Linked DNA regions of Homo sapiens: region 1 is linked to region 2. The links come from fine-mapping of genetic effects on gene expression. A gene starts in region 2. The other region holds a variant in brackets. All regions are shown on one strand. Distances are between the middles of the regions. Region 1 has its middle 7.6 kb from the start of NICN1. Region 2 holds the start of P4HTM (prolyl 4-hydroxylase, transmembrane).

What was found. PIP is the estimated chance that this variant, and not a neighbour inherited with it, causes the effect.
Region 1: its variant is the best candidate, but not a certain one, in a credible set for the expression of P4HTM in whole blood (TOPMed, PIP 0.59).

What each region holds. Positions count from the first base shown.
Region 1 is chr3:49,434,220-49,439,589 of GRCh38, forward strand. No RefSeq gene overlaps it. Among named protein-coding and RNA genes, the nearest start is that of NICN1, 7.6 kb to the left of the region's middle. The variant AAAAC/A (reference allele first, on the strand shown) is at 2,533.
Region 2 is chr3:48,988,085-48,993,454 of GRCh38, forward strand. P4HTM (prolyl 4-hydroxylase, transmembrane) reads left to right here and starts at 2,157. Exons shown (of 9, transcript NM_177939.3): 1 at 2,157-2,526; 2 at 2,749-2,830. The coding sequence starts at 2,173. It overlaps LOC124909376 (a long non-coding RNA gene), which reads right to left and starts at 1,788. Exons shown (of 2, transcript XR_007095903.1): 1 at 1,464-1,788. RefSeq lists enhancers at 877-1,440, 1,441-2,003, 1,751-1,910, 2,568-3,129 and a silencer at 2,021-2,400.

The DNA of each region.
Region 1 (5,370 bases), 450 kb after region 2:
CCTGTAGTCCCAGCACTTTTGGAGGCTGACGAGGGTGGATCACAAGATCAGGAGTTCAAGATCAGCCTGGCCAACATAGTGAAACCCTGTCACTACTGAAAATACAAAAATTAGCCGGGTATGGTGGTGCACACTTGTAGTCCCAGCTACTTGAGAAGCTGAGGCAGGAGAATCACTTGAACCCGGGAGGCAGAGGTGGCAGTGAGCAACAATCACGCCTCTGCACTCCAGCCTGGCAACAGAGCAAGACTTCATCTCAAAAATGCGGCCGGGCACCGTGGCTCAAACCTGTAATCCTAGCACTTTGGGAGGAAAGGCGAGTGGATCACGAGGTCAGGAGATTGAGACCATCCTGGCTAACGCTGTGAAACTCCGCCTCTACTAAAAATACAAAAAATTAGCCGGGCGTGGTGGCACGCACCTGTAGTCCCAGCTACTTGGGAGGCTGAAGCAGGAGAATTGCTTGAACCTGGGAGGCAGAGGTTGCAGTGAGCCGAGATCACGCCACTGCACTCCAGCCTGTGTGACAGAGTGAGACTCCGTCTCAAAAGAAAAAAAAAAGAACCAGATAGGCAAGCACAGTGGCTCATGCCTATAATCCCAGCACTTTAGGAGGCTGAGGCTGGAGGATCTCTTGAGCCTGAGTCACGGCTGTATCACACCACCACAATCCAACCTAGGTGACAGAGTGAGAATCTGTCTCAAAAAAAAAAAAAGGAAGAAAAAAGGCTGAGCACAGTGGTTTATGCCTGCAATCCCAGCACTTTGGGAGGCTGAGGCAAGATGATTGTGTGAGCCCAGGAGTTTGAGGTCAGCCATGGTGAAACTCCGTCTCTACAAAAAATACAAAAATTAGCCGAGCATGGTGGCTCATGCCGGTAGTTCCAGCTACTCAGGAGGCTGACATTGGAGAATCACCGAGGCCAGGAGTTCGAGGCTGCAGTGAGCCAAGATCACAAAAAATAAGAATATAAAGCCGGGCGCAGTGGCTCACACCTGTAATCCCAGCACTTTGGGAGGAAGAGGCGGGCGGATCACAAGGTCAGGAGATCGAGACCATCCTGGCTAACATGGAGAAACCCCGTCTCTACTAAAAATACAAAATTAGCCGGGGTGGTGGTGCATGCCTGTAATCCCAGCTACTTGGAGCTGAGGCAAGAGAATTGCTTGAACCCGGGAGACAGAGGTTGCGGTGAGCCAAGATCGCGCCATTGCACTCCAGCCTGGGCAACAAGAGCGAAACTCCGTCTCAAAAAAAAAAAAACAAAAACAAAAATTAGGCCAGGTGAGGTGGCTCACACCTGTAATCCCAGCACTTTGGGAGGCCAAGGCAGGCGGATTATTTGAGGTCAGGAGTTCGAGACCAGCCTGGCCTACATGGCTAAACCCCATCTCTACTAAAAATACAAAAAAAGGCCGGGCGCGGTGGCTTACACCTGTAATCCCAGCATGCTGGGAGGCCAAGGCGGGCGGATCACCTGACGTCGGGAGTTTGAGACCAGCCTGACCAACATGGAGAAACCCCGTCTCTACTAAAAATACAAAAAAATTAGCCAGGCATGGTGGCCCATGCTTGTAATCCCAGCTACTCAGGAGGCTGAGGCAGGAGAATCGCTTGAACCCAGGAGGTGGAGGTTGCAGTGAGCCAAGATCGAGCCATTGCACTTCAGCCTGGGCAACAAAAGGGAAACTCTGTCTCAAAAAAAAAAAAAAAAGTCCAGTATGGTGGCATGAGCCTGTAATCCTAGGTACTTGGGAGGCTGAGGCAGGAGAAATCGCTTCAACCCGGAAGGCAGAGGTTGCAGTAAGCCGAGATTACGCCATTGCACTCCAGCCTGGGTGACAAGAGTGAAACTCCATCTTGAAAATAAAAAAAAAAATACAAAAATTAGCTGGGCGTGGTGGTGCACACCTGTAGTCCCAGCTACTTGGGAGGCTGAGGCAGGAGAATCTCTTGAACCTGGGAGGCAGAGGTTGCAGTAAGCTGAGATCGCGCCACTGCACTCCATCCTCGGTGACAGAGGGAGACTCCATCTTAAAAAAAGAAAAATAAAAAATAAGAGAAACAAAGTGGCAATTTGGAGAGGCAAAATGATTAGAGATTAGAGAGGACAGAACTCCATAGAGAGATAACAGGCGATTTCCAAGGCGGTTCCTTGAGGCTTCAGCTGAGTGATAATCAGCACAAGTATGTGAGGAAACTACCCAACCCCAGGGAGAGAATTACCCAAAAAGAATAAGATAACTAGGCCAGGCCCGGTGGCTCACACCTGTAATCCCAGCACTTTGGGAGGCCAAGGTGGGCAGATCACGAGGTCAAGAGATCAAGACCATCCTGGCCAACATGGTGAAACCCCGTCTCTACTAAAAATACAAAAAATTAGCCAGGTATGGTGGTGGGTGCCTGTAATCCCAGCTGCTTGGGAGGCTGAGGCAGGAGAATTGCTTGAACCTGGTAGGCGGAGGTTGCAGTGAGCCGAGATCGTGCCATTGCACTCCAGCCTGGGCAAAAAGAGTGAAACTCCGTCTCAA[AAAAC/A]AAACAAACAAACAAAAAAGAATAAGATAACTATCACCAAATCTTACGAGTATGTGAGGAAACTACCCAAGCCAGTGAAAGAATTACCCAAAAAGAGTAAAAATAACAATCAGCAACTCTTAGTCTGAGCCAGAAATTGTGTTTCCACCAGCCATAGCTAAAGCCCTCCTAATTCATGGGGCATTGTGTAGCATGCTTAAACGGGTATTGCTGGGCCGGGTGCGGTGGCTCATGCCTGTAATCCCAGCACTGTGGAAGGCCGATGGGGGCGGATCATGAGATCAGGAGTTCGAGACCAGCCTGGCTAATATGATGAAACCTCATCTCTACTAAAAATATAAAAAATTAGCCAGGTGTGGTGATGCGTGCCTATAGTCCCACCTACTCAGGAGGCTGAGACAGGAGAATCGCTAGAACCCGGGAGGCAGAGGTTGCAGTAAGCCAAGATTGCGCCACTGCACTCCAGCCTGGGCAACAGAGTGAGACTCCATCTCAAAAAAAAAAACAGAAAAAAAAAAAAAAGGCCAGGTGAGGTGGCTCATGCCTGTAACCCAGCACTTTGGGATGCTGAGGTGAGCAGATCACCTGAGGTCGGGAGTTCGAGACCAGCCTGACCAACACGGAGAAACCCCATCTCTACTAAAAATACAAAATTAGCTGGGCGTGGTGGCACATGCCTGTAATCCCAGCTACTCAGGAGGCTGAGGCAGGAGAATCGCTTGAACCCGGGAGGCAGAGGTTGTGGTGAGCCAAGATTGCGCCATTGCACTCCAGCCTGGGCAACAAGAGCAAAACTCCTTCTCAAAAAAAAGGGTATTGCTGGCCAGCACTCTGGGAGGCTGAGGCAGGTGGATTACTTGAGGCCAAGAGTTTGAGACCAGCGTGATCAACATGAGGAAACCCCATGTCTACTAAAAATACAAAAATTAGCCAGGTGTATTGTTGGTGCACACCTGTAAGCCCAGCTACCTGGGAAGCTGAGACATGAGAACTGCTTGAACCCAGGAGGCAGAGGTTGCAGTGACCCAAGAACGTGACAGGGCACTCCAGCCTGGGCGACAGACCAATACTCTGTCTCCAGAAAAAAAAAAAAGGGTATTGCCATACATTATGGATGAAAATTTGTGTGAAGCTAAAATCTACTCTGATCCTACCTAACAAAGATTAAAATCAAGCCTCAAAATAATCAAATGTTTAAATGTATTAAAGAACAATGCTCAAAAATATCTATAGGAATACAATGCTATCCAGCATTTGAAAAGGTAAAATTTACAATGTTTGGCATTCATTTCAAAATTACCAGTCAGCCAAAAGAGATTGCACATACCTGATCACACCTGTAAATAGCCACTGCTCTCCAGCCTGGGCAACATAGCCAGACCCTGACTCTCCAAAAACAAATTGTTTATATACATATAACTACCACTGCCCTTTTATTTTTTTTTCTTGGACGGAGTTTTGCTCTTGTTGCCCAGGCTGGAGGGCAATGGCACGATCTCGGCTCACTGCAACCTCCGCCTCCCGAGTTCAGGCGATTCTCCTGCCTCAGCCTCCCTAGTAGCTGGGATTACAGGCATGCGCCACCACGCCTGGCTAATTTTGTATTTTTAGTAGATACAGGGATTCTCCATGTTGGTCAGGATGGTCTCAAACTCCCGACCTCAGGTGATCCACCCGCCTCGGCCTCCCGAAGTGTTGAGATTACAGGCGTGAGCCACTGTGCCCGGCCTACCACTGTCCTTTTCATAGTTTTATTTTTTATTTTTATTTTTTGAGATGGAGTCTTGCTCTGTCGCCCAGGCTGGAGTGCAGTTGCACAATCTCAGCTCACTGCAACCTCCTCCTCCCAGGTTCAAGAGATTCTGCTGCCTCAGTCTCCTGAGTAGCTGGGATTACAGGTGTGTGCCACCACACCTGACTAATTTTTGCATTTTTAGTAGAGACGGGGTTTCACCATGTTGGCCAGGCTGGTCTCAAATTCCTGATGTCAAGTGATCCACTCACCTTGGCCTCCCAAAGTGCTGGAATTACAGGTGTGAGCCACCGTGCCTGGCTTTATTTATTTATTTATTTATTTATTTTCTTTGTTACAGTCAGAGTTTCACTCTTGTCCCTCAGCCTGGAGTGCAGTGGCATGATCTTGGCTCACTACACCTTCTGCCTTCCAGGTTCAAGCAATTCTCCTGCCTCAGCCTCAAAAGAAGCTGGGATTACAGGCACGTGCCACCACGCCTGGCTAGTTTTTGTATTTTTAGTAGAGACAGGGTTTCACCATGTTGGCCAGGCTGGTCTCGAACTCCTGATCTAAAGTGATCCACCCACCTCGGCCTCCCAACGTGCTGGGATTACAGGCGTGGGCCACCGTGCTCGGCCTTATTTATGTATTTATTTATTTTTGAGTTGGAGTCTCACTCTGTTGCCCAGGCTGGAGTGCAGTGGCACGATCTCGGCTCACTGCAACCTCCACCTCCCAGGTTCAAGCGATTCTCGTGCCTCAGCCTCCTGAGTAGCTGGGATTACAGGCACCTGCCACCATACCCAGGTAATTTTTGTATTTTTAGTAGAGACGGGGTTTCACCATCTTGGCCAGGCTGGTCTTGAACTCCTGACCTCATGATCCACCCTGTTTGGCTTCCCAAAGTGCTGGGATTACAGGTGTGAGCCACCACGCCAGGCCTATTTATTTATTTATATTTATATTTATATATTTTTTGAGACGGAGTTTCACTGTTGTTGCTCAGGCTGGAGTGCAATGGCGCATTCTCGGCTCACCGCAACCTCTGCCTCCTGAGTTCAAGCGATTCTCCTGCCTCAGCCTCCCAAGTAGCTGGGAT
Region 2 (5,370 bases):
GGCCTAGTTCAGGTAATAGGTGTAAGAATGGAGTTCAGGAAAATAGGTTAAGCAAAGTACAGATTTTATGGTGATCAAATTCTAGTTTTTAAAAGGCTAGAGGGGCCGGTCGCGGTGGCTCATGCCTGTAATCCCAGCACTTTGGGAGGCCAAGGCGGGCGGATCACGAGGTCAGGAGTTTGAGACCAGCTTGGCCAACATGGTGAAACCCCATCTTTATTAAAAATATAAAAATTAGCTGGGCGTGGTGGCACGTGCCTGTAATCCCAGCTACTTGGGAGGCTGAGGCAGGAGAATTGCTTGAACCCGGGAGGCAGAGGTTGCAGTGAGCCGAGATGAAGCCACTGCACTCCAGCCTGGGTGACAGAGCAAGACTCTGTCTCGGGGAAAAAAAAAAAAGGCTAGAGGGAAATAGTCTCAACTTCATTCCAGAAAAGGTATGAGAAAGCCATGAGATCCTTGGTAAAATTATGGTTCTGTTGGTTGGTTTATTATATTTAAGAATTTAGGAGATTTGGTCTGGGTGTGGTGCCTTATGTCTGTAATTCCAGCACTTTGGGAGGCCAAGGTGGGTGGAACACCTGAGGTCACGAGTTTGAGACCAGCCTGGCCAACATGGTGAAACCCTGTCTCTACTAAAAATATAAAAATTAGCCGGGCATTGTGGCGGGCACCTGTAGTCCCAGCTACTTGGGAGGCTGAGACAGGAGAATTGCTTGAACCCGGGAGGCGGAGCTTTCGGTGAGCTGAGATCACACCACTGTACTCCAGCCTGGCGACAGAGCGAGACTCTGTATCAAAAAAAAAAAAAAAATTATAATTAAAAAATTAAAACTAAATAATAATAAATAAAAATACAAAAAAAAAAATTGGCCCGCCATGGTGGCGCATGCCAGCTACTTGGTAGGCTGAGGCAGGAGAATTGCTTGAACCCGGAAGGCAGAGGTTGCAGTGAGCCAAGATCGCGCCACTGCACTCCAGCCTGGGCGACAGAGTGAGACTCCGTCACACACACACAAAAAATCTTAGAAGAAAGAGGTGGGCCTGCCCTTGGAGCCCCTGGCCTGCCTTGACTTGAGGGGACTAGAAAATGCAGACTATGCTTTGCTATGGGGAAGGGAGAGGAGATGGGAGTAGAGGTAGTGGGGGTCTTAACCAGGGTAGGGAGAAACCACCAGTGTGACCTGCCTTAAAAGTGTTGCTCTTGCCTGCAAGTCCACCTCGGGGAGGGGGGTCAGCTTCTGCCCTGAGGGCGTGTAGTAATCTCTTCCTGAGGATAACCAGCTCTAGAAGAGCAGGGATGCCTTGGCACTTGACCACTGGTAGGTATGTCCTCCCCCCACCCCCGTTTTTGGTGATAATCTGTTTAATTTTTCTCTGAGGTAATGGTGTCTCAGTTATGGAAGAGTCCCTTCCCGCCTCTTCACACGTGCCAGCTTTGATGCAAGGAGTGTTCCATATACCTGAGCACTGGTTCATTCCTGCGGGCTGCCATGGGGGGCTCACTTTCCTGATGCCAGGGCTCCTCCAGGATGCCCCCTCTGACGGCCTATGAAACCTTGCACATCAGGCAGCTTCTTCCTAAGGCCTGCCTGACTCCGGCGAGACTTCCCGGGAGATCCGGACCGACCGCGGAACCGAGCTCCAAGAATGCCTGCGAGGAGGCTGTGGGTCCTACCCTATCGCCGCTTACGCAGTCCCAGCCTCCGCGGCGCCCCCAAATGCCGCACTGTTGAGTCATCTCAGCGCTGCCTCCTCCGCGCTGCGCTCCCCACCCCCGCTCCTGGAGCAAGAAGATGCAGACGATACTTTTCCCGGAGGCAAGAGGGCGTCTTCACGCAGGCACCGAGAAGCTCCCACTAGTGTATGCCTTAATGGTGCCGCTCTTGTCCGCGTCTACGCTTGGGACCTTGGCTTCTGACTTGGAGAGTGTACAGCTCTGCCCGACGGCAACCCAGCTTGGGAAGAGAAGCCCCAGCGTGGGCTGGGGCTCAAGGCGCAGGAAGGCCGAGCCCGGCGCGGACGCAGGCGGCTCCGGGCGGGCTCAGCACCCCCAGGCACCGTCTCCTAGTGACCGCGGCGCTCGCGGGCCTGGCGGCCGTTGTCCGGGCGACTGCGCAGCGCGGGCACCCCCGCGGCCCCTCCCCTGGGCGCGCGCGCGACCTGGGTGCCATGGCGGCAGCGGCGGTGACAGGCCAGCGGCCTGAGACCGCGGCGGCCGAGGAGGCCTCGAGGCCGCAGTGGGCGCCGCCAGACCACTGCCAGGCTCAGGCGGCGGCCGGGCTGGGCGACGGCGAGGACGCACCGGTGCGTCCGCTGTGCAAGCCCCGCGGCATCTGCTCGCGCGCCTACTTCCTGGTGCTGATGGTGTTCGTGCACCTGTACCTGGGTAACGTGCTGGCGCTGCTGCTCTTCGTGCACTACAGCAACGGCGACGAAAGCAGCGATCCCGGGCCCCAACACCGTGCCCAGGGCCCCGGGCCCGAGCCCACCTTAGGTCCCCTCACCCGGCTGGAGGGCATCAAGGTGAGGACCTCCCTGCCCCGCCGCGCTCCAGGCCCTGCACGGCTGAGCCCGAGAGGACCGGCGCTCAGCCCGGGTCCCCACGCTGCCCCCGGCGCTGCTCTGCGTCGGTCCCGCGCGCTCCCACTCACTCGCCTGCTGTCGCTCTCCGGGCCGGGGCGACTTGGCCCTTCTTGGGCAGCGCGGTCTGGCGCCCCAGCTGCCCGCTGTGCGCCTTTTCCTTAGGTGGGGCACGAGCGTAAGGTCCAGCTGGTCACCGACAGGGATCACTTCATCCGAACCCTCAGCCTCAAGCCGCTGCTCTTCGGTAAGTCCGCCAGATACTCCTGGGAAGGGCCAGGGGCTGCGGTTTGGTGGCCACCTTGAGGCTCGTTGTGACCACGTGACCTCTATTTTGAAAATGGCTGCTTCAGAGCAGCCCTTCCAGAGGATTACCAAAGTGAAGGACCTTCCCCGTCCTCGAAATAGGGTAACACTCCCTCTTATCCCAACTCCCTGCAGTCCATTCTTCCATCACAGGGCTGGCAGGGTGAGCCTGAGGCTGGTGTCTAAACGTTTCATTGCACCTGTCTTCCGTGCCACCATTAATTCTGTCACCTTCTAGAACTGGGAGGAAGGTGGGAGACTGATAACCAGCTTTCTGCCGACCTCAGGACCTCTGGGGAAAATCCCACTGCCGAAGTGGGCCTTGTGGTCTGATGAGAAGCAGGCCGTCCAAATGTAGATAAACTGGTACCCCCCCAGCCTCCTCCACTGGAGTACCAGTCAGAGGCTCAGCTTTTGCTGCCAGCACTCTGAGATTCTTCTTAAGGTGAAGTCTTTGTTCAGCCATCATGGGCAAAGCTTTCTAGGGTGACTCCAGTTGGAGCCACAACATAGCTCATCGTTTCTGAGCTCTAGTTATGTGCTTGCCTTCATATGATTATTTCATTTAATTCCTGCAACCCCTCTGTGAAGTGGGTGTAGATCCTACTCAGGCCAGTGAGGGGGAAAGTTAGGGACAGAGAGCTGCTGTGGCTTGGCCAGGCTGACACGGTTACTTCAGTGGTGAAGCTAGGATTAGAACCCACATAGCCTGCCTCTAAGGCCTATGCAGTAAAGCCACAGTGCGAGCTGTGAAGACCCCAGAGTCCTTCAAAGACCACCAGTGTCAACTGGGTGGGGACCCCTAGTCCCATGGACATTGTCCAGGGTGTTTGTGTAGCCCAGCCCTGGGTACCTGGCCTCCGTGACAAACATATTTGCAAACCCAGGGCCATTCCTGCCTGCCGGGGGATGGAATGGGTTAGGAGCTGGGGCCAAAGTAGAACATCTGAGCACAAGTCATTACCTCCAAGGCAGAGGGTCCTGGTTGGGGATTATGCCTAGACCTGTCAGAATGATGTCATATGCATGCTGTTTGTAGGGAAATAGATTATGCTGTCAGTCCTGTTGTGGGAGAGGCACCCAAAGCTGGTTGTTGTTATTATTACTATTACTATTGAGTAACGTTGAAGTCTGTGCCAGGCACTATTTTAGGTGCCAGGAACACAGCATTGAACTAAATATAAACAATGAAACAAAACCCTGAAGCTGACATTCAAATGAAGAGGAAACAGACAATAAACAAACAAATAAATATATACATTGGTGTGTCAGATGGTGATATGTGATTGCAAACAAGTAAGGCAGATTTTTTTTCTTTTTTCTTTTTTGCCAACATAAAATAGCAGACAGGGCCGGGCGTGGTGGCTCATGTCTATAATCCCAGCACTTTGGGAGGCTGAGGCAGGCAGATCACTTCAGGTCAGGAATTTGAGGCCAGCCTGACCAACATGGTGAAATCTCATCTCTACTAAAAATACAAAAATTAGCCGGGTGTGGTGGTGTACACCTGTAATCCCAGCTGTTCAAGAGGCTGAGGCATGAGAATTACTTGAACCCAGGAGGCAGAGGTTGCAGTGAGCCAAGATCGCACCACTGCATTCCAGCCTGGGCAACAGAGAGAGACCCCTATCTCAAAGAAAAAAAAAAATAGCAGACAGTAAGGCAGAAGTTCAGCTGGGATTAGAACTCTTTTTTTTTTTTTTTTTTTTTAGACTAAGTTTCTCTCTTGTTGTCCAGGCTGGAATGCAATGGTATGATCTCAGCTCACTGCAACCTCCGCCTTCCGGGTTCAAGTGATTCTCCTGCCTCAGCCTCCCAAGTAGCTGGGATTACAGGCATGCGCCACCACATCCGGCTAATTTTTTGCATTTTTAGTAGAGACGGGCTTTCACCGTGTTAGCCAGGATGGTCTCAATCTCATGACCTCAGGTGATCTGCCCTCCTCAGCCTCCCAAAGTGCTGGGATTACAGGTGTGAACCACCATGCCTGGCTGGAACCCTTAATAAGGTAGCCAAGGTGGACCTGCCTGAAAAAAATATTTGAGCAAGGCTGGGCGCGGTGGCTCACGCCTGTAATCCCAGAACTTTGGGAGGTCGAGGCGGGTGGATCACCTGAGGTCAGGTTGTTCGGGACCAGCCTGACCAACATGGGGGAACCCCGTCTACTAAAAATACAACATTAGCAGGGCGTTGTGGCACATGCCTGTAATCCCAGCTACTTGGGAGGCTGAGGCAGGAGAATCGCTTGAACCCAGGAGGCAGGGGTTGTGGTGAGCCAAGATTGTGCCATTGCATCCAGCCTGGGTAACAAGAATGAAACTCCATCTCAAAAAAAAAAAAAAAAAATCTGAGCAACGACTTGTGGGAAGTATGGGATAAAGCCAGATGACTGTCAGGAAAGAGGGGTCCAGGAAGGAACTAATACTCACCCCATTACTACTACACTACTAACGACTACTATGAACAGACACATCTGAGGAG